Homo sapiens: one gene and its partner. The protein of the gene in region 1 binds, or shares a complex with, the protein of each later gene. Each region holds a gene or a part of one and is shown on either strand. Other genes may lie near its edges.

Evidence for each region.
Region 2: CTNNBL1 (region 1) and BCAS2 share a complex: the UniProt entries of both Homo sapiens proteins name them as parts of the PRP19-CDC5L splicing complex.

The regions. Positions count from the first base shown.
Region 1 is NC_000020.11:37,730,798-37,740,615, forward strand, and holds part of CTNNBL1 (beta-catenin-like protein 1), read left to right. Parts: intron 1-2,081; coding exon 2,082-2,270; intron 2,271-6,580; coding exon 6,581-6,687; intron 6,688-9,818. UniProt on the Homo sapiens protein: Component of the PRP19-CDC5L complex that forms an integral part of the spliceosome and is required for activating pre-mRNA splicing.
Region 2 is NC_000001.11:114,568,798-114,578,615, forward strand, and holds part of BCAS2 (pre-mRNA-splicing factor SPF27), read right to left. Parts: intron 7,962-9,818; coding exon 7,891-7,961; intron 6,955-7,890; coding exon 6,793-6,954; intron 1,954-6,792; coding exon 1,903-1,953; intron 1,276-1,902; coding exon 1,195-1,275; intron 1-1,194. UniProt on the Homo sapiens protein: Required for pre-mRNA splicing as component of the activated spliceosome. Component of the PRP19-CDC5L complex that forms an integral part of the spliceosome and is required for activating pre-mRNA splicing.

The DNA of each region.
Region 1 (9,818 bases):
GAAACCTCATCTCTAAAAAGTAAACAACAACAAAAGGCAACATGAGGTCCTAACAGAGTATGGTAGAAAGGTCCTTGGACTAGGAGTCTGGAAGTGCCAGTTCTATTTTCAGTGGTGCACGAGTGGTTTTGTGATCTTATGTAATACTTGGCTTCTGGGCCTTTATTATTATTATTATATTTGATTTAAAAAACTTTTATTTTTAATTAGCAAATAATTGTATATATTTATAGGGTACAAGGTGATATTTTGATATATGTTTACAGTCTGGAATGATTACATCAGGCTAATTAACAAATCTATCACCTTTAATACTTTTTCTGTAGTGAAAATATTTAAAATCGTTTTATCAATTTTTAAATGTACAGTTCATTATTATTTATTATATTCAGCATTCAGTGCAATAGATCACTAAAGCTTATCTTCCTGTTTAACTGAAACTTTTTTTTTTTTTTGAGACGGAGTTTCACTCTTGTTGCCCAGGCTGGAGTGCAATGGCACGATCTCGGCTCACCGCAACCTCTGCCTCCCGGGTTCAAGCGATTCTCCTGCCTCAGCCTCCCAAGTAGCTGGGATTACAGGCATGCACCACCACGCCTGGCTAATTTTGTATTTTTAGCAGAGATGGGGTTTCTCCATGTTGATCAGGCTGGTCTTGAACTCCTGACCTCAGGTGATCTGCCCGCCTCAGCCTCCCAAAGTGCTGGGATTACAGGTGTGAGCCACCGCACCCGGCCTTACTGAAACTTATACTCTTTAGTCAACATTTCCCTCCGTCTCCCTTCCTCCCCAGCCTCTGGTGACGATCATTCTACTCTCTACTTCTATGAGTTCAGCTTTTTTAGATTCCACATACAAGTGAGATTACGAGGTATTTGTCTTTCTGTGCCTGGCTTATTTCACTTTGCTTAATGTCTTCCAGGTTTATCCAGGTTGTCTCAAATGACAGAATTTCCCCACTTTTTAGGGCTGAGTAGAATTCTATTGTGTATGTATACATTTTTTTTATCCATTCATCTAGTGACGGACACATAGGTTGCTTCCATATCTTAGCTATTGTGAATAATGCTACAATGAACAGGGCAGATATCTTCTCAGCATACTGAATTCAATTCTGTTGGTTACATACCCAAAAGTGGGATTGCTGGATCATATGATAATTCTATTTTTAATTTTTTGAGGAACCTCCATCTGTTTTCCATCATGGCTGTATTAATTTGTGTTTCCATCAACAGTGCACAGGGTTCTCTTTTCTCTACACCCTCAACAACACTTTATCTTCTGTCTTTTTCATGATAGCCATTCTGATAGGTGTGACATGATAACTCATTGTGATTTTTCTTTGCATTTCCCTGATGATTAGTGATGGTAAGCATTTTTTTCATATATCTTCTGGCCATTTGTACATCTTCTTTTGAGAAGTGTCTATTTAGGTCCTTTGCCCAGGCTCTGGGCCTTACTCAACTCTTCTGTAAAATAGAATTGGGAGTACAGTAGACATTCAGAAGTTACATATGTAATATTTTATGTTTGTACTATTTGTGAGTAACTGTAAAAAAGGCTTTGTAATCTTACGTAGATGTGAATTAAAACCAGGTGCTAAGACGCTGGCATTGGGAGTTATATCTTGACTAGTATGTGAGCCTAACCCAGTGTCCCCATCTTAAGATAGCTTTGTTGCTATTTCCGTATACATAGGAACTTTTGTGAAATGGCAAAACTGCGTATAAAAAAATTCCCACTGACTTTCATGGTATATTTATAGAATCATTAAGGATCTGAAAAATGACCACATAGAGCTTTACCCCATGTGGTGGGAGAAGTTGTATGCTGGATGCTTTTGAGTCAGAGAATTCTTGAAAGCTTTTAGGATATTTGCTGTCTATGCCTTGCAAAGTCTTTTTTTGTATTTTTTGTAGAGTCAGGGTTTTACCATGTTGCCTCAGGCTGGTCTCAAACTCCTGGGCTCAAGAGATCTGCCTGCCTTGGCCTCCCAAAGTGCTGGGATTATAGGCATGAGCCACCACGCCTGGCTTCTATGTTGTATCCAGCTCTAAAATCTTATGTTTCTTTTCTCTCAGCCCAATAGGGGCACAAAACGTCCCCGGGATGATGAAGAGGAGGAGCAGAAGATGCGTCGGAAACAAACTGGTACTCGAGAACGCGGCCGCTATCGGGAAGAAGAAATGACTGTGGTGGAGGAAGCGGATGATGACAAAAAAAGGCTGCTGCAGATTATTGACAGAGATGGGGAAGAGGAAGAGGAAGAGGTAACGTGGCAGCGCTGGGTGGGAGCTGAGATGGCTGGCCCTGTAAAACGTAATTTTGGGCCAAATACTAAGCTTGTCTGAGCTTCCCATCTTCATCTGTAAAATGGGGTTAAGAATTCATATTTCATCGCGTTAATGTGAAGGTTAAGTGGGCTAGTGCAGTTGGGAAAGCATCTTATGAGATGTAAAGAATGTGACAGAGTTTTAAAATTGTTCCATATTATGTACTGTAGGGGAGGGTCAGGGCAGGCTTCCTGGATCTTACTGAGGACACATAGAAGGCACTTGCATTATTATCTTTGAAAGAGGGGTCAAATTTCACCAAGTGGAAGGAAGGGCTTTTTGGGCAGAGAAAATGGTATTAGCAAAGCAACAAAAGTGGAGAAGTTTAATGGGTTCCACAGTATTAGGTATTTAGGTGTGACTGCAAAAGTACAGCTTAGGGAAGGAGATTCCTCGGGCCTTTCCCTTTGCTGTTCCTCAAGATGCGTTGGGGCCTTTCCACTCATTCCTGCCTCTGGACCTTTGGACTTCTGTGTCCTCTGTTGGAATGCTCGTCTCCCTTAATGCTTTGTATGACTGGTTTCTTCACATTCAGGTCTCAGTTCAGATGTTTCCTCCTCCAAGAAGTCTTTCCTATGTAGCCCTGCAAGCCATTCTCTCATTTCCTCATTACTGTATTTTGTATATTGTCTGCATAGCACGTATCATGATTTGAAATTCTAGTTGTTTATTTTGCTCATTGCTGTCCTCCTCTCAGCCTCCCATGAAAACAGAGACTGGCTCTGTTCTGTTCACAGCTCTATCTTTGGCACCCAGAGCAATACCTAGCTCTTGGTAGGCCCTTAATAAATATTTATTGAATGAATAAATGAATGAAGCTGGGAAGAGTAGAGGTAAAATATCAGTGATTAAAAACAAAATGACCTTACCTCTGTGTCTTTTTAAATCTTTAAGTGTTAACTTGTGTGTTATTTCACTCTGGCATTTTGTTCAATATGAATTATGGAAATAAGAGTCTTAAGAGCCAGCTGTTTTTTGGTTCTCTCAAAGACACGATGCTAAGTTTGGATTACAAAATGAGGTTGGCTGTGAATCTGAGAAGAAGAAAAAATGGATTCATATTCCAAAAAGGTCTTTACTGTGTTGTGACAATAGCTCTGTCTTTATTAGGATTTGTACTAGTGCTAATTTGGGGGTCTCCCGCTAAAAGATGATGGCACTTTAGAAATACGTGGTGGGAGACAGTCCTGAATTTTTTAATTTCCTCTCTGAGGGCAGCAGCCTTGCCAGGGCTTAGACAAACAGTGTGTGTAGCACATCCTCCCTCCCTTCCCTCCTCACCAGCTTCTGCTCAATCTGTTAGCCCTGCAGCAGCAGTTAATTGGCAGGTATAATTCCCATGTAGGGCAAGGCTGGTACTGGAGGATTAGGATAGTAGCTGTCATGGGTAAGTGGTTTCTAGCCTGGGAGACAGAAATGTAATGTGGGACCAACCCGTCTGTTAAGGGACAGGGAAAAAGAGATCGCTTTGTAAAAATGACACATGGAAGGCTACAAGTCCAGGAGTTATTTTCTCACTGCCACTGAAGTCCCATTTGATGAAAAACAAGTGATGTTTGCCCCTGTAAAGTCACGTGAACTTGTAAAATATTATTGTCCTTTTTGTGCTACATCATCAGCATTCATCTTTCTGAAATCTCCCTCTGGTTTCTGACGTTGAGCTATTGGAGATACTGCTGTGGCTGATGACTAAGACTGATAATTCAGTTTTCCCCCAGTGTTGGAGAGAAATTAAAGGAGGGAAGGCCAAACCCCGGAGAGGCTAGGACTTCGGAAATCCCATGAGAGCTGTGTTAACACTAATGTGGTTTTTCTCCAGAGTGGGGCAAGATGTTAGCTAAGAAAAGAAAAAGTAGCAGATATTGAGCTTACTTGAAAGTGATTTAACCCTTTCCTAGAAATGTTTTGATTATTTTAGTTAAATTCTAGTGGTATGTTGGGTACATTGTGCCTGTTGCTGATAATAACCATAACAGCTTGCATTCATGTAGTTTACAAAGTAGTTTTATGTACATCCTTTCTTTAGGTCATCTCTATGACCTTGAGAGATAACAGGTAACAATTTCATTCATCCCCTTCCTTCCCCTCCCCTCCCCTCCTCCCTTCCTCCATTCCTCAGATCTTCACTGAGTACCTGCTGTGTGCCAGACACTGGAGAGTCTACTTATGCCAGAGAACAAGTAGACATGGGCTAGCAATGGGAGTCTTTGCACTGGTTTGGGGTTGGAGAGATTATCTGGGCAGATCCTGCCAGATCCTTACGTAGATCATGTGAGGGATTTGGGATTTTATTCTAAGTGTGTAGTGGATGAGTTCAGGAAAGACTTAGGAGATAGAATTAGCTGGACTTGATGAAGCTTTGAGAAATATATTCAGCAAAGTAACATTGTCCCATGGCTAGTAAGTAGTGAAGCTAGGCTCTGAGTCTTGACTGAGCCAGGACTCTGACTTGTTTTTACTGTGTCAGGGAACCTGTCTTTAAGCTGTAGACCCTGGGGAGGAGGTAGGGGTTCAATAGAGAACCTTGGGATCTAGGAGTCATTGGTATAATCTAATAAATGTGTCATGCTGAAAATGAATTTATGGGTAGCTCCCACTTAAAACCCCATATGTGGAAATAGAAATTTAATAATAGAATAATAGCTAACATTTTTGAGTACTTATAAAATTATGGGATGATTCAGTGCTTTCCAAAAGGATCTATTTCAGGTTCTCTTAATAGCAGTTTCTTTATTGCTTTTAGGTGTGAGTTATGGTCAATGACTACAAAGCTGTGAAGCTTTGAGTTGGGATAGTATGAAGAGAAGCAGGGTGCATTGCAGCACATTAATTTAAACTGGAAGGAAACTGAAGATAAAACGTGTGAAATTTCAGTGTAGATTTTTTGGAGAAAAAATGATTTAGTTTTCAAATATTCATTTTATTTGCTTTCATAGGTATTATTCCAATGTATGAAGCCAGAAAATTCTGTACAGTCTACTAGCTTTTTTTTGCATTCTCTAGGCAAGGTTACTAAATTCTTGATGCTACTTCAGGGTTCAAAGTACCTGTCTGAATTCCTTCTCAGCATCTAGTAAGTACCAGGCAAAGTAATATATAAGAAATGCTAAGCAGTGACTATAGCTAATTAACAACCGTTCTTAGTTTACGCACTGTGGAAAAACAGGCAGTAGGTTGGATTTGGCTCATGGGCTGCAGTTTGCCAACTTCTGCTGTAGGAAAAGATTAAGGGTCACTGTCACTGACTCAGAGTTTGACCTTAAACAATTCTTTTAAACCTGTCAGTCTTATCTTACATGTATAGCAAAGGATGACAAGGTAAATGTATAATAATATTATCTAATATTGTTGCTTACTCTCTGCCATACAGTGTGCTCAAGAAATATTTGTTGAATGAGTGAGTCTTTAACAACTTTTCTTTTTTTTTTGAGACAGAGTCTCCCTCTCTCACCCAGGCCGGAGTGCAGCGGCACAGTCTCGGCTCACTGCAACCTCTGCTTCCCAGGTTCAAGTGATTCTCATGCCTCAACCTCCCGAGTAGCTGGGACTACAGGCATGTGCCTGTATTTTTAGTAGAGATGGGGTTTTGCCATGTTGGCCAGGCTGGTCTTGAACTCCTGACCTCAAGTGATCTGCCCACCTTGGACTCCTGAAGTGCTGAAGTGCCCAGTCTTTAACACCTCAAACCGAATTTTCTGTGTTACAGATAGTGGGCATTGTGTGAGACACCCAATGTGATATACCCGAAAAGAAGCATGTGATTACAGGCCCTTACTCCTCATTGTAATTAGAGAGATAAAGTGTGTACTGTGGCCGGGCACAGTGGCTCACACCTGTAATCCCAGCACTTTGGGAGGCCAAGGTGGGCAGATCACGAGGTCAGGAGATCGAGACCATCCTGGCTAACACGAAGAAACCCTGTCTCTACTAAAAATACAAAAAAATTAGCCGGGCATGGGGGCATGTGCCTGTAGTCCCAGCTACTCGGTAAGCTGAGGCAGGAGAATCGCTTGAACCTGAGAGGCAGAGATTGCAGTGAGCTGAGATCATACCACTGTACTCCAGCCTGGGCGACAGAGCAAGACTCCATCTCAAAAAACAAAACAAAACAAAAAAAGTGTACTGTACATTGAACCCAGAAAGGTCAATGGCAGAGTGAGGTGGGGTATAAGAGCCACAGGAAAGTAGTGACAATGAATGTGAAACCCCTGTGGACTGAAGTTTTTGCATTTGTCTCTTTGTACCAGGAGGAGCCATTGGATGAAAGCTCAGTGAAGAAAATGATCCTCACATTTGAAAAGAGATCATATAAAAACCAAGAATTGCGGATTAAGTTTCCAGACAATCCAGAGAAGTAAGGTTCTGTTCCACTGATACCATGTCTCCTCTGTGGCGTTTCGTTGGCTAATTTTGTTTTGATTTTGGTTTGTTTTGGCTTTTGTGATTTGGGCCAGGAATCCCAGGATGACCCCCATGTTTGGGAATTCACTAGAAGGACTCCCAGGACTCAAAGTCAGTGATACTCAGGGCTGTGGTTTATTACACAGGGCACACAACAGGATCAGCAAGAGAAAAAGACACATCAGGTGGCATCTGGAGAAATTCAGATACAGGCTTCCTATGTTTTCTCCTTCCCAGTGGGTGGGATTATACAAACATGCTTCTTTCTTCAGCAATGAAATGCATCAACATGTGTGCAGTGATGCTGTCCAGGGAAGCCCATTTCAGACTCTGAGTTCAGGGTTTTTATGGAGGACTGGTCATGTAGGCATTCTCTGCCTGTAATAACAATAACAACCAAAATTGTAGGCTCCTGGAAGGAAAGCAGCTGTTCAGTGCCCCGGGCTGACAAAGCAGCAACCTTATCACTTAGGGAACATTTCAAAAGCCAAATTCCTGGCTGCCAGCCTAGGGCCAGCCTTGTAAGCTAGCCCTTTTCAAGATCAGCCCCGCAGTTAACATATTAACTCTCCTGCATTATTCTTTTCAGTGCCCAAAGAAGACTGATCGTGCCTGCCGTTAGTGATAGCTTTACTGTGGAGATCATTTCAGAGGCTCTGAAGTTAGACAGATATTGGTGTGATACACACATCCCTTTGAATAAGTTACTTCCCCTTTCTTAGCCTTGGGTGTCTCATCTGTATAAGGAAATAATGCCTTCCTCACAGGGTTGTATGAAGATTAAAGGAGAATAATGTAAGTGTTTAGCTTAGTACCTGGCACATAGTAGGTGCCCATGAGATGATAGTTAACGTGAGTTTTACTACACTGGCACCTTGGTGCACTATGAAGTGCTATGTGAGGAATCTGGCATCTTTCAGTCAGTCTTGAATCCTAACCAAGGGGACTTTCACATTTATACGATTTTAATGTTCTAAACCTCTCTTTCTTTCCCTATCTTTGTCCCTCCCAGGACATACAATTTTAATGAATCTTAATATGCCCAAGGCCCCCAGGCAATTAACAATTGAGTAGTACAGGCTTTGCACTCAAGTTTTTAGGTTACTAGGGAGACTGACTATAAAGGCAAGGTAGAAGGAAACAGACACTTTAAAAGAGATATAATAGGAGAAGAAACAGTAAATACCAAGTTGGGGGCTATTGAGGGTGTCACAGAAAAGATAGTAGTTGAGCTGGGCCTTGAAGATTCATTTTTATTAGGCGGAAAAGAACACAGGAAGGCATGCCAGGCAATATGAGGAGCATGAACAAAGGCACAGAGGTGTCAGCGGGCACAGAGTCTTCATGGCAACCTAGAGAGGCCAGCGTGGTCAACTATGTTGTCCCTGTGCTGTGGATGAGAAGGCAGAGTGGGGAGAATGTGGTTACTGGGCCTAGGGCCACAGCCCTCTTTGATAGTAGGAGTAGCTATTAATAGATCAGGGCCCAGCTTATCCAGCATTAGAGTCCTATCAGGTTTTGTACTGATCTCCACCATACAGGAGCACTGTGTGTGTGTGTGTGTGTGTGTGTGTGTGTGTGTGTGTAATTACACAAGTAATGCATGAATAGATTGTCATTCTGAAAATACCAGTGGTACATGAGTAGAGTGAAAAATGAAAGTTTTCCTTCACTACTCTGATCCCTTTCCATTCCTCTGCCTAGAGGAACCTTGTGAACAGTTAATTATGCAAATGTATTTGTTTCTACTTAAATCATACTGTGCATATTCTGCACCTTGATTTTTTGGGTCATCTAACAGATCTGTCCAGGTGGTACATGCATATCTACCTTGTGTTTTTTTAATTGGTGCATAGTATTTCATGGTTTGGAAATACCATGACTTATTTAATTATTTTCTATTAATGGACATTTGATTATTTTAAAATCGGCTTTTATGAAAAATGCTATAGTGAACCTACTTGTACATGTGTCTTTGTGTGCATATATTTCCATAGGATAGATACCTAAATTTTGAATTCCCAGATTGAAGGGTATGTACATTTTAATGATAGCTACTGCCAATTTTCTCACTGTATTTTTAAATTCTCCCCCCAGCAGCAGCATCTCTTTTCTTGTGTTCTTGCCCACAATGCATGTGATCAGTCTTTAACATCTTTGCCATTTGTTTTGTTGTTATTTCTGTACTCAGTGGTTCCTGCATTAGACTCTGTTCCTTTTAGGAGATGGACGGTGTCTTGTTTGTCTCTAGTGCCTACCACAGTACTTGCCTTGCTGTAGGTGTTCAGTAAACATGAGAGAGCTCATGTAGTCCCTGTCGTCTTTATTACATCCCCATTGCTTGAACCTAAGGATACATTATGAGGAAGCTATGCTGCGGGTAATGATACTGGAAATTTAAGAAATTCAGTTTACTTCTTTGAACACCAGTATTTCCTTCGCCCGCTTGGTAGATACACGTCTCTCAATTTGGAGCAGAGTTTCTGCAGGTTATGTTCACCATCTACATCTTAGGTACCTTAGTGTTACAGTTCATTAACTGGGTTTAAGACAATGTGATTTTATTTAAAAAAATCGGTAGTGTTTTCCATTCAGACAAAATGTATATACTATTTTAGTTTTAAAATCTGAGCATATGAAAATTGAAATTGTGCATAAAGAACTTTTTTTTTTCATGTCGAAAAGCAGTTAGGAAACTACATTGTGTTTTAACCTTGAGTTCTTGAATTCTCACTGGTGCAGTGTCTTTCGTAATTCTCTAGATCAGCGAGGTGAAATTAAGATGAAAATTGCTAGAGTGTATTCGGATGAAACTTTCCGGTTGAGATCAGAAACATTCAAATTTATTTTCCCATATATCCAATTGTCATTTTGATCGCATACCCAAAAATGCCTCTCTTCATTTGACTGCATTTGAGATTCAGTTGACAGTTCTCCTTATGCACCCTCCAATTTGCACTGCCTGATCTTTCTCCTAAACACCACATTGACTAGAGTGTGCTGTTTCCCTAGAAAGTCCTTTAATAGTTCTTCTCTTCATTTTTGCAGGGACAGAATTACTTAGTTTACTGATTTTCAACCTTT
Region 2 (9,818 bases), on another chromosome or scaffold:
TCTGTTGCCTAGGCTGAAATGCAGTGGTGTGATCACAGCTCACTAGCCTGGAACTCCTGAGCTCAAGCAATCCTCCAACCTCAGCCTCCTGAAGAGCTTAGACTACAGGTGCATGCCATCATGCCTGGCTCATTTAAAAGCATTTTTTTGTAGAGACAGGGTCTCGTTATGTTGCCCAGGCTGGCTTGAACTCCTGGCTTCAAGCAATCCTCCTACCTTGGCCTACCAAGGCACTAGGATTACAATGTGAGTCACCACACCTGGCTCTCTGTATTATTTCTTACAATTGCATGTGAATCTATAATTATCTAAAAATAAAAGTTTAATAAAAAAGCAAATTAGAAACAGATGAGAGAACTTGCAAACCAGAAGAAAGAGGAAAGAGTGATGAAGATAGTATTTAATCAACAAAAAGGAAAGAGGCAATAGTTTATTAAATTGAGGAAAAAGCGTGAAAGGGTACCAACGAGACTGGTAAGACGTACATGGAGACGGTGGAACAAGAATGACTTGAGTAATGAAGGGAGAAAGGGAATGGCCAAGCAAAAAGGAAGAGAGAAATGACACAAATATTCAAGATTATATTGTATAAAGGTATACATGTGTGTATGTAAAAGAACATTTTTAAAAATGCATAAACCTGAGGTACAAAAAAATTACCAAGTATGAAATCTCCCTCCCTACAAGATTTTATAAAATAATTTTTTTCCTTTTTTTTTTTTTAAAGACTAGGTCTTGCTCTGTTGCCCAGGCTGGAGTGCAGTGGTGTGATTATGACTCACTGCAGCTTCAACCTTCCAGGTTAAGCAATCCTCCTGCCTCAGCCTCCAGAGTAGCTGGGACTACAGACATGTGCCACCGTGCCTATTTTTTTTTTTTTTCCGTTTAAAAGGAGAATAAAGGTAGAGTTCTATTCAAGGCCAAAAATACTAGACTAAAAACAGGGTATTCTAAGACCAGAATCCTTTAGCAATGGTTCAATTTAGCAAAGGATCCTTCGCCAATGGTTCAATTCTCGTTTATAGTTCTCTTTAACACCTTATAAAGAGGCAGAGACGGGGAAGGGTGAATTCAGAAAATAGCATTTCTTTGTTACCTGTGGCATCCCATTTGAATGCTATTTGAATCATATTATTGAATCGACCTTAGAAAGGGCTAAACAATTTAAAAGATGATGGAATTATAGATACTCACTTTGACTCCATTTCTCTCAATTTAGATCCAGCTGTGAGTTGCATGTTCTTTCTCTGCCAGTTTAAATCTTGAATATGTTTTCTGTAAAAAATTATTTATACAACCCAATTACATTTTAATGTAAGACCTAAATCAACAGAAAACTCTATAACACAAGAGAATATCTTAATCCCATGAGAACAATATTATGTACAGTTATAGGCTAACTGTAGAAATTACCTTTCTTCTAATTATTTTTTGATTACAAGTTTCATAAAACATGCTCATTGTGAGAAATCACACACACACACACACACAAGCACACACAGATTACAAGTCTCAAGTCCCCCCTCTCATGCATGTCTCCTTTTTCCTGATAACTCCTGTTGAGTTTTTGCTGGGTGTCCTTCCAGGCTTTCCTATATGTGTGTGTAGAAATTGGTTTTAAAAATCAGATTATATGTGTTATTCTGCAACTTTTCCCACTCTAAAAGTGCCTTTCTATGTTTGCAGACTTGCAAGCTGCAAGTGGCAGAGATGTTTTCAGACCTCAGGCCTATTTCTCCTCTACTTAGGTAGGGCAAACCCAGTGTCAGATGTTGAACAAAGAGAGTGGATCAATTGTTTACTTTCATCTGGCTGCAGTCTCTTTGCTTTCTTTTTCCTCCTATTTTCTATTTATTAAAGGTTCACTTAAACTTCATTCTGTAATAGGAAAAAACAATTTACCTTAACTTCTGAAGTTCCTTCTGTGCGTGTTCAATCATATGAACTAGATTTCTGAAGGAAAAGAGGAAAATCAGATTAAAATACATTAAAATAGTACCAATTAAAAGTGAACTTTTTCAAGTTTTTCTGCCAAAAATCATATTTATGGAGCTCTGTGCCAAGAACTATGTTGGACACTCCATAATCGAGGACTGTCACTCATGCTGGAATGCAGTGGTGTGATCATGGCTCACTGCAGCCTTCACCTCCCATGATCAAGTAATCTTCCTGCCTCAGCCTCCCAAGGAGCTGCAATCCTCCCACCTTGGCCTCCCAAACTGCTGGGATTACCATGCCCTGCCTGATCTTGGAGTACTTAGGTTACTTTTTTTTTTTTGAGACAGTCTCGTTCTGTTGCCCAGGCTGGAGCGAAGTGGTGAGATCTCAGCTCACTGCAGCCTCTGCTTCCTGGTTCAAGAGATTCTCCTGCCTCAGCCTCCCAAGTAGCTGGGATTACAGGCATGTACTGCCATGCCTTGCTAATTTTTGTATTTTTTTTTTTAGTAGAGATGGGGTTTCACTATGTCGGCCAGGCTGGTCTCGAACTCCTGACCTCAAGTGATCCATCTGCCTCGGCCTCCCAAAGTGCTGAGATAACAGGCGTGAGCCACTGTACCCAGCTTTTTTTTGCGGAGGGGAGGGACAGAGTCTTGCTCTCCTGTTGCTCAAGCTGGAGTGTAGTGGTGCAATCATGGCAGCCTCAACCTCCTGGGCTCAACTGATCCTCCCACTTCAGGCCTTCAAAGTAGCTTGGATTACAGGCATAAGCCACCATGCCCGGCTAATTTTCATTACTTTTTTGTAGAGACAGGGTTTCACCACGTTGTCCAGGCTGGTCTTGAACTCCTGGGCTCAAGCAATCTCCCCACCTCAGCCTCCAAAGTGTTGGAATTACATGTGTGAGCCACACGGCCTTTTGTCACTTCTTAAACTGTCATGACTTCTTGTCATAGAAAAGATGGAATATATCTGAGTACCCACTTATTTTATTTCTCAACCCCCTTTTATCTCTATATTTCTGCATATACATTCACCTTGTCATTCTCTCCTCCTGTCTACTGCTAACTAGAGAGAGGTGAGAAAAAGAAAACTGTTGTAGAATGAGATATCAGTCCATATTTGCATGTAACATATGCATAGCAAAATAAAAAATAGATACCAGTCCAGGTCAGCTGTAACTAGCACAGGGGAAAAGTTCAATAATACAGAGTACCATATAATTATTTTAGAGAAGTAATGAAACAGATTTTAATCTCTTTTTTAAGTTTAAATAACAACTTTATTAAGATATAATTCCACATCATATCAATTTCCTCTTAAGGCAGTGGATCAATCACCTACAGGGTCCATTTTTACCACATCTGGCCCTAATGTGTTCTTGCTCTAAATCTAATATTGTTTCCTGGCTTTTGTGACTCAAATTTTCTGTTGCTCACCTGAGTTATTCTCCTACCTCTACTGACTGGTTTCCTTGCATTAGCTGCAATTCTCTCAAGATTCAGTCTTTAAACAGCTGTGCCTCTCTAGGCTTTCCCTCAGGTCATCCCCCTTTCCTTGACTTCGACAATCACTCCATGCTGAGCACTATTGATTTTAGTGCTCTATTCCAGACTTCTGACCACTAACAGGGAGCTTTCCTTTGAATTGGCTCTCCCTGAAAGTTTAGTTTGTCTTCTCCCTTCTCCCACCCTTCCTCTTAAATATACTTTGATAAAATATAGTACATCTCCTCTGGAGAAGTGTCCACTGAATTTGGAGGAGACAAAATATGCTTAGGGGAATGTGAAGCACTATAGAGCACTTTGTGATTAAATGGAAAACAAGTGATGTGCACAATAATTCTGTGTATAGTTACTCAGAAGAGGGAGACAATACTAGAAGCAGAATTTCAATCAGGGAAGAAGACAAGTAAGCAAACTAGAGCTGAGCCCTAAACAAGCTGAATTTGGGTATAACAGGTAAAGACAAGGGCAAGTAAAGGCCCAGAGGCAGGATTTGCAATAATCACCAGAGAAAGGACTAGTTTGGGTTGAGTTAAAAGTCTACAGTTGAGGTAGTAAGGAAAAGCCCTTGAATACCACGTTAAAAAGCCTGGCCCAGCCGGGTGCTCACACCTGTAATCCCAGCACTTTGAGAGGTTGATGCTGGAGGATCACTTGAGGCCAGGAGCTCAAGACCAGCCTGGCCAACATGGTGAAACCCCGTCTCCACAAAAAATACAAAAATTAGCCAGGCGTGGTGGTGTCTATAATCCCACCTACTCTGGAGGCTGAGGCAGAAGAGTTGCTTGAACCCGGGAGGGTTGCAGTGAGCTGAGATTGTGGCACTGCAATCTAGCTTGGGCGACAGAGCAAGATTCTGTCCCGCCCCCCGCCCCCACCTCCAAAAAAAAAAAAAAAAAAAAAAAAAAAAACTTGGCCTCTACCTTGCAGGTAATAGGGAATTATTAAAGGTTTTCAGGTAAGTTGACAGCAGTGTTCTTTTCAATGTCATATTTTTTCCTCTGCATCTATGCTCTCCATTCCTGGAATGTTTTCCTTGTTTCCTTCTAAACATCCCAATTTCACCTTTCTTCAACAACCTTCAACTTAATGCCCCATCTTTTTTTTTCTTTTTTTTGAAACAGACTACAAGTGTGTACCACCATACCTGGCTATTTTTTTTATTGTTTTCTATAGAGACAGGGTTTCACTTACGTTGCCCAGGCTGGTCTCAAACTCTTGGCCTCAAGTGATCCTCCTGTCTCAGCCTCCCAAAGCACTAGGATTATAAGCGTGAACCACGCCTGGCAATGCCCCATCTCTTAACGCTTAGTTTACAGACCACAGCACACAATGTAGCACTTGCCCCCATATTGCCAAAAATGGACTATTGGTTACTTGGCATAAAACTTATTATCTCTTCCATTAGATAAAGCTTCTTGAGAAGAATCACATTTTTCCATTTTGTGAAACAGATTTATTGATGTCGCTTACATTTCTTAATCACCCTAATCCCATTCTTTCTTCTTTTTCCCCCCTTGCAATATATAGATATATAAAAGAAAGTTAGTTGTTGGCTTTGTAGAGTTTCCCAAATTCTGGATTTTGTCCACTGGATCATTTTTATGTGGCTACAAATATTAAATGCATAATTCTGAAGATTTGAGAAACAGTATTATCATTTCATGGTTTTGCTTTATTTTATATAGCTATGTTTCAGGAAACATACTCTAACGAAAGTTGTACATACTGTTATGAAGTTCAGTGGCCTTTTTCTCTTAAATTGTGAATAGACACTCAGGAAATTTTAGGGCACAAAGGGGCCATGCAGATAATCTAACCACGGAATTTTGCAAGCAAGGAATCTGAATTCTAGATAGACAATAAATACTAAAGCTAGAGCTAGTTACATGGAACAGAAACAGGATGTCAGTGGCTTGTTTTGACAACAAATACTTGCTCAAATTTATTTGTAATCCCAAAATTACTACTTGTAGTGTTTTGCAGTCATTCATGGACATGTGCACAGTGGTGAAAAATCTGAGCAGCTGAGCATGCACATTTTCAGCTGAGGATGAACAAGGAGGTGCTTTGCCTTCTTGTTTTAGCTCTCATACAGAAATAACCAGAGGATGAAGTTCAAGTTCCAAGTCTGGGATCTGTTAGTGGGGCAGTTTCAAGAAAGTTACTTTACATTTCTCAACTTTGTTTTCTCTTTTATAAAATAAAGAAGTCTACCAGGATGAGTTTATTTTAGGATTTAAGATTATAATCTATTTGAGAGATATGTATATGTGTGCACATGAATATGTATATATTTCCCCTAGGAGAAATGGTACAGTATTTGCTAATTCAGTGTTCATAGGACTTAAAGAACATAACCCATGACTAATGAGAATCAACTGTTTAAGCAACGCTTGATAACATTCTATCAAGTGGTGCTCTGCAAATGGGACCTCAGAACTAGTTTTGTTACAATATTATACAATAAATGTCGTAGTTTGGTTTAGGTCCTGTTAGTACTCTTGAACTTTGAGGTGGGTTTCAAAATAGTGGCCTTTCATATGGGTTGCAGTTCTAGAACATAATCCCAAGACAAAGTCTAGCTATATTATTTTTATCACACTTCCCCTACCCATACTTTGTGGGGTTTTTTTGTTTGTTTTTTGAGATGGAGTCTCGCTCTGTCACTGTGGCTGGAGTGCAGTGGCACAATCTCAGCTCATTGCAACCTCTGCCTCCCAGGTTCAAGCAATTCTCCTACCCCAGTCTCCTGAGTAGCTGTGACTACAGAAGCGCCACCATGGCCGGCTAATCTTTTTTTTTTTTTTTAGTAGAGATGCGGTTTTACCATGTTGGCCAGGCTGGTTTCAAACTCCTGACCTCAGGTGATCCACCCGCCTCGGCCTCCTGAAGTGCTGGGATTACAGGTGTAAACCACCGCGCCCGGCTTTTCTTTTTCTTTTCTTTTTTTTTTTTTTTTTTTGAGATAGAGTCTCATTCTGTCGCCTAGGCTGGAGTGCAGTGGCAAAATCTTGGCTCACTACAACCTCTGCCTCCCAGGCTGAAGCAATTGTCATGCCTCAGCCTCCAGAGTAGCTGGGATTACAGGCACACGTTACCATGCCCAGCTAATTTTTTGTATTTTTTTTTTTTGTAGAAATGGGGTTTCACCATGTTGGCCAGGCTGGTCTCGAACTCCTGACCTCAAGCAATCCACCCACCTCTGCCTCCCAAAGGGCTGGGATTACTGGCATGAGCCACTGCACCCAGCACCTCCCATACTTTTAAAATGTACTAAAACTTTGGGTGAGATGGAAAGAAAAGAGAAAAAACAAAAAAAACAGAAGATGAAGAAAAAGGTTCTTACTCATTGTATACTTTCCAGGCATTACATCCATGCTGTGACATTAGTTCCAGATTCTCAATTCTAACTGCTTGATGCTCTAACTGGGCCATAGAATTGTTTACACATTCTTGCCATGCAGTAATGTCATTTTTTTGACCAGAGGAGGGGGCTGGAAGCTCATATCTGAAATTAAACAACAAAATAAAATAAAACCATCTATACTGCCAAGCCTTTACATCTCTTCTCAGTAGAATGTCCCATGAGTCTCCATATAGTATAAAAACTACAGAAGACTAAGGATGTAAACCTTGCAATAATAAGAAACCGATATATGCTAACAATCAATTTACAAATATGATTTAGCACCATTATGTTCACTTCAATGTGAACTGGTTAAATAAGCAACATTACATTCACATAAAAGATTGTTACATTAGCTATTAAATGTTACTGAAGAATATTTAATAATATTAAGATGTCAGTAATATATTAAGGGGAAAAAGCAGTAGACAAAAAAGTTTGCTACCATTTTTGTAAAATACTCACACCCACCCATCCACTAACATACCCATGCGCCGGTAGAGAAAAAAATGAGAAGCGATATGACTCCTTCTATTCTCTCTTCATACTACCCAGTCAGTCCTTCAACACTGCCTCTCTCTCTCTCTCTCTCTCTCTCTATATATATATATATATAGTTTTTTTTTCAAGACTGGGTCTCCCTCTGTCCCCAACGCTGGAGTGCAGTGGCACAATCTCGGCTTGCTGCAACCTCCATCTCCTGGGGGGTGTCAAGCGATCCACCTACCTCAGCTTTCCAAGTAGCTGGGTCCACGGGTGCGTGCCACCACACCCAGGTACGTTTATTATTATTATTATTATTATTATTAATTATTTTTGGTAGAGATGGGGTTTTGCCATGTTGCCCAGGCTGGTCTCAAACTCCTGGATTCAAGCAATCCACCAGCCTCGGCCTCCCAAAGTGCTGGAATTACAGGTGTGAGCCACCACACCCGGCCAACACTGCCAATATTAGCCAGCAAATACATTCTTCACAAATCTCAGCTCATTACTGAGTTACTACAAACTAAATTTTAATTTCCATTTTAATATTCTTACCGTTTCATACTGAGCAATTCAATTGGTTGTCGAGCAGCCAGTCTTTCAAATTCATTTCTCATTATGTCAGTCTGATGTGTAAATCAGAAAAAAGATTTCTAAGATCATGTTGACAACTAAAAATTAACAATCACCAAAGAACAGATTTAAGCTACACTACCCATTATAATGAATTGTTTACCTTTCCCTAATTCTTCTCTGAGTTAAATGCTCTCTAGAATCTGAAGCACACACACACACACTCACTCACTCACTTCACATTCAGGAAAAGTGGCATGTATTAAGGAGCCCACAGAGAAAAGGATTAATCCTAAACCAGTGGTTCTTAATTCCAGAAGCATATCAGAATCAGTTCGACAGTGCTATGGTTTGAATGTTTGTCCCCTCTGAAATTCATACAGAAACTTAATCCCCAATGTAATAGTATTAAGAGGTGGGGTCTTTAAGAGGTGATTGGGTTATGAAGGCTCAATCCATTCATGGGTTAATAAGTTATCACCAGAGTGGGTATGTTATAAAAGCCAGTTTGTCTTTCTCTTGTGTGCCCCTACCTTGCCATGTAATGCCCTGTGCTGCTTCAGGACTGTACACCAAGTCCACACCAGCAAGAAGGCCCTCACCAGATGCAGCCTGTGAACCGTACACTTTCCAGCCTCCAGAAATCCAAGAAATAATTTATTTATTTATTTATTTTTTTTTTGTGAGACGAAGTCTCGCTCTTGTCCCCCAGGCTGGAGCGCAATGGCGCGATCTTGGCTCATCTCTGCCTCCCGGGTTCAAGCGATTCTCTTGCCTCAGCCTCCCGAGTAGCTGGGATGACAGGCATCTGCCACTATGCCTGGCTAATTTTTGTATTTTTAGTAGAGACAGGGTTTCACCATGTTGGCCAGGCTGGTCTCGAACTCCTGACCTGAGGTGATCGGCCTGCCTCAGCCTCCCAAAGTGTCTTTTCTTTATATTCACTATCTTCTCTAGCAATTTTACTGTTCGCAAGTAAATGTAGTATAGCTGTTCCTCTTTAGGGCCAACGTCCTAACCCATTTCCATTCTGCACATTTCCTACCCTGAGGATAAAGAACTGCTTAAAATATTTCTTTGTAGTAATACTTCGGTTATTCCATGTAATTTTAATTTTCTGAGGGTTTCAACTATCTTAACAATTAGACTAAATAAGTATCAAAGGCCTTACAGAAGCCTGCATGAATGTTTAAAAGTTTTTATTAGGCCGGGCGAGGTGGCTCATGCCTGTAATCCCAGCACTTCGGGAGGCCGAGGTGGGTGGATCACGAGGTCAAGAGATCAAGACCATCCTGGCCAACAAGTTGAAACCTCATCTCTACTAAAAATACAAAAATTAGCTGGGCGTGATGGCACGTGCCTGTAATCCCAGATACTCGGAGGCTGAGGCAGGAGAATTGCTTGAACCTGGGAGGTGGAGGTTGCAGTGAGCTGAGATCACACCACTGCACTCCAGCCTGGCAACAGAGTGAGACTTCATCTCAAAAACAAAAAAACAAAAAAACAAAAAAACAAAAAACAAAAAACAAAAAATTTCGTATTAAGCATTTCTTTCTGCAGAAAGTATTTTGCAGGGGCTACTGCTAAATTACACACAATCTTAAGAAAATGTAGTTACCTAGTTTCCTGCAAAAAAAAAAACCAGGGCATTCTAGCTAGAAAATTCTGCAGTGACAGACAAGGAGTAAACAGCCAATTAAACACGAGGCAGTATAAAAATGCAGTATAAGTAGTCTTGAGCCATGTAGCATAGGAGGAACCCTTAACTAACTCACATGCTCAGTAAGTGATAAATCTGGAATTTTAGCTCATCTCTCTCCAAAGACTAAGCCAGTGTTCATGGAGCGGCAAGGGCAATCCCTGCTCATGGAGTAGTCTCATCTTAGCTTTGAGAGGCCTTCCTCAACCAC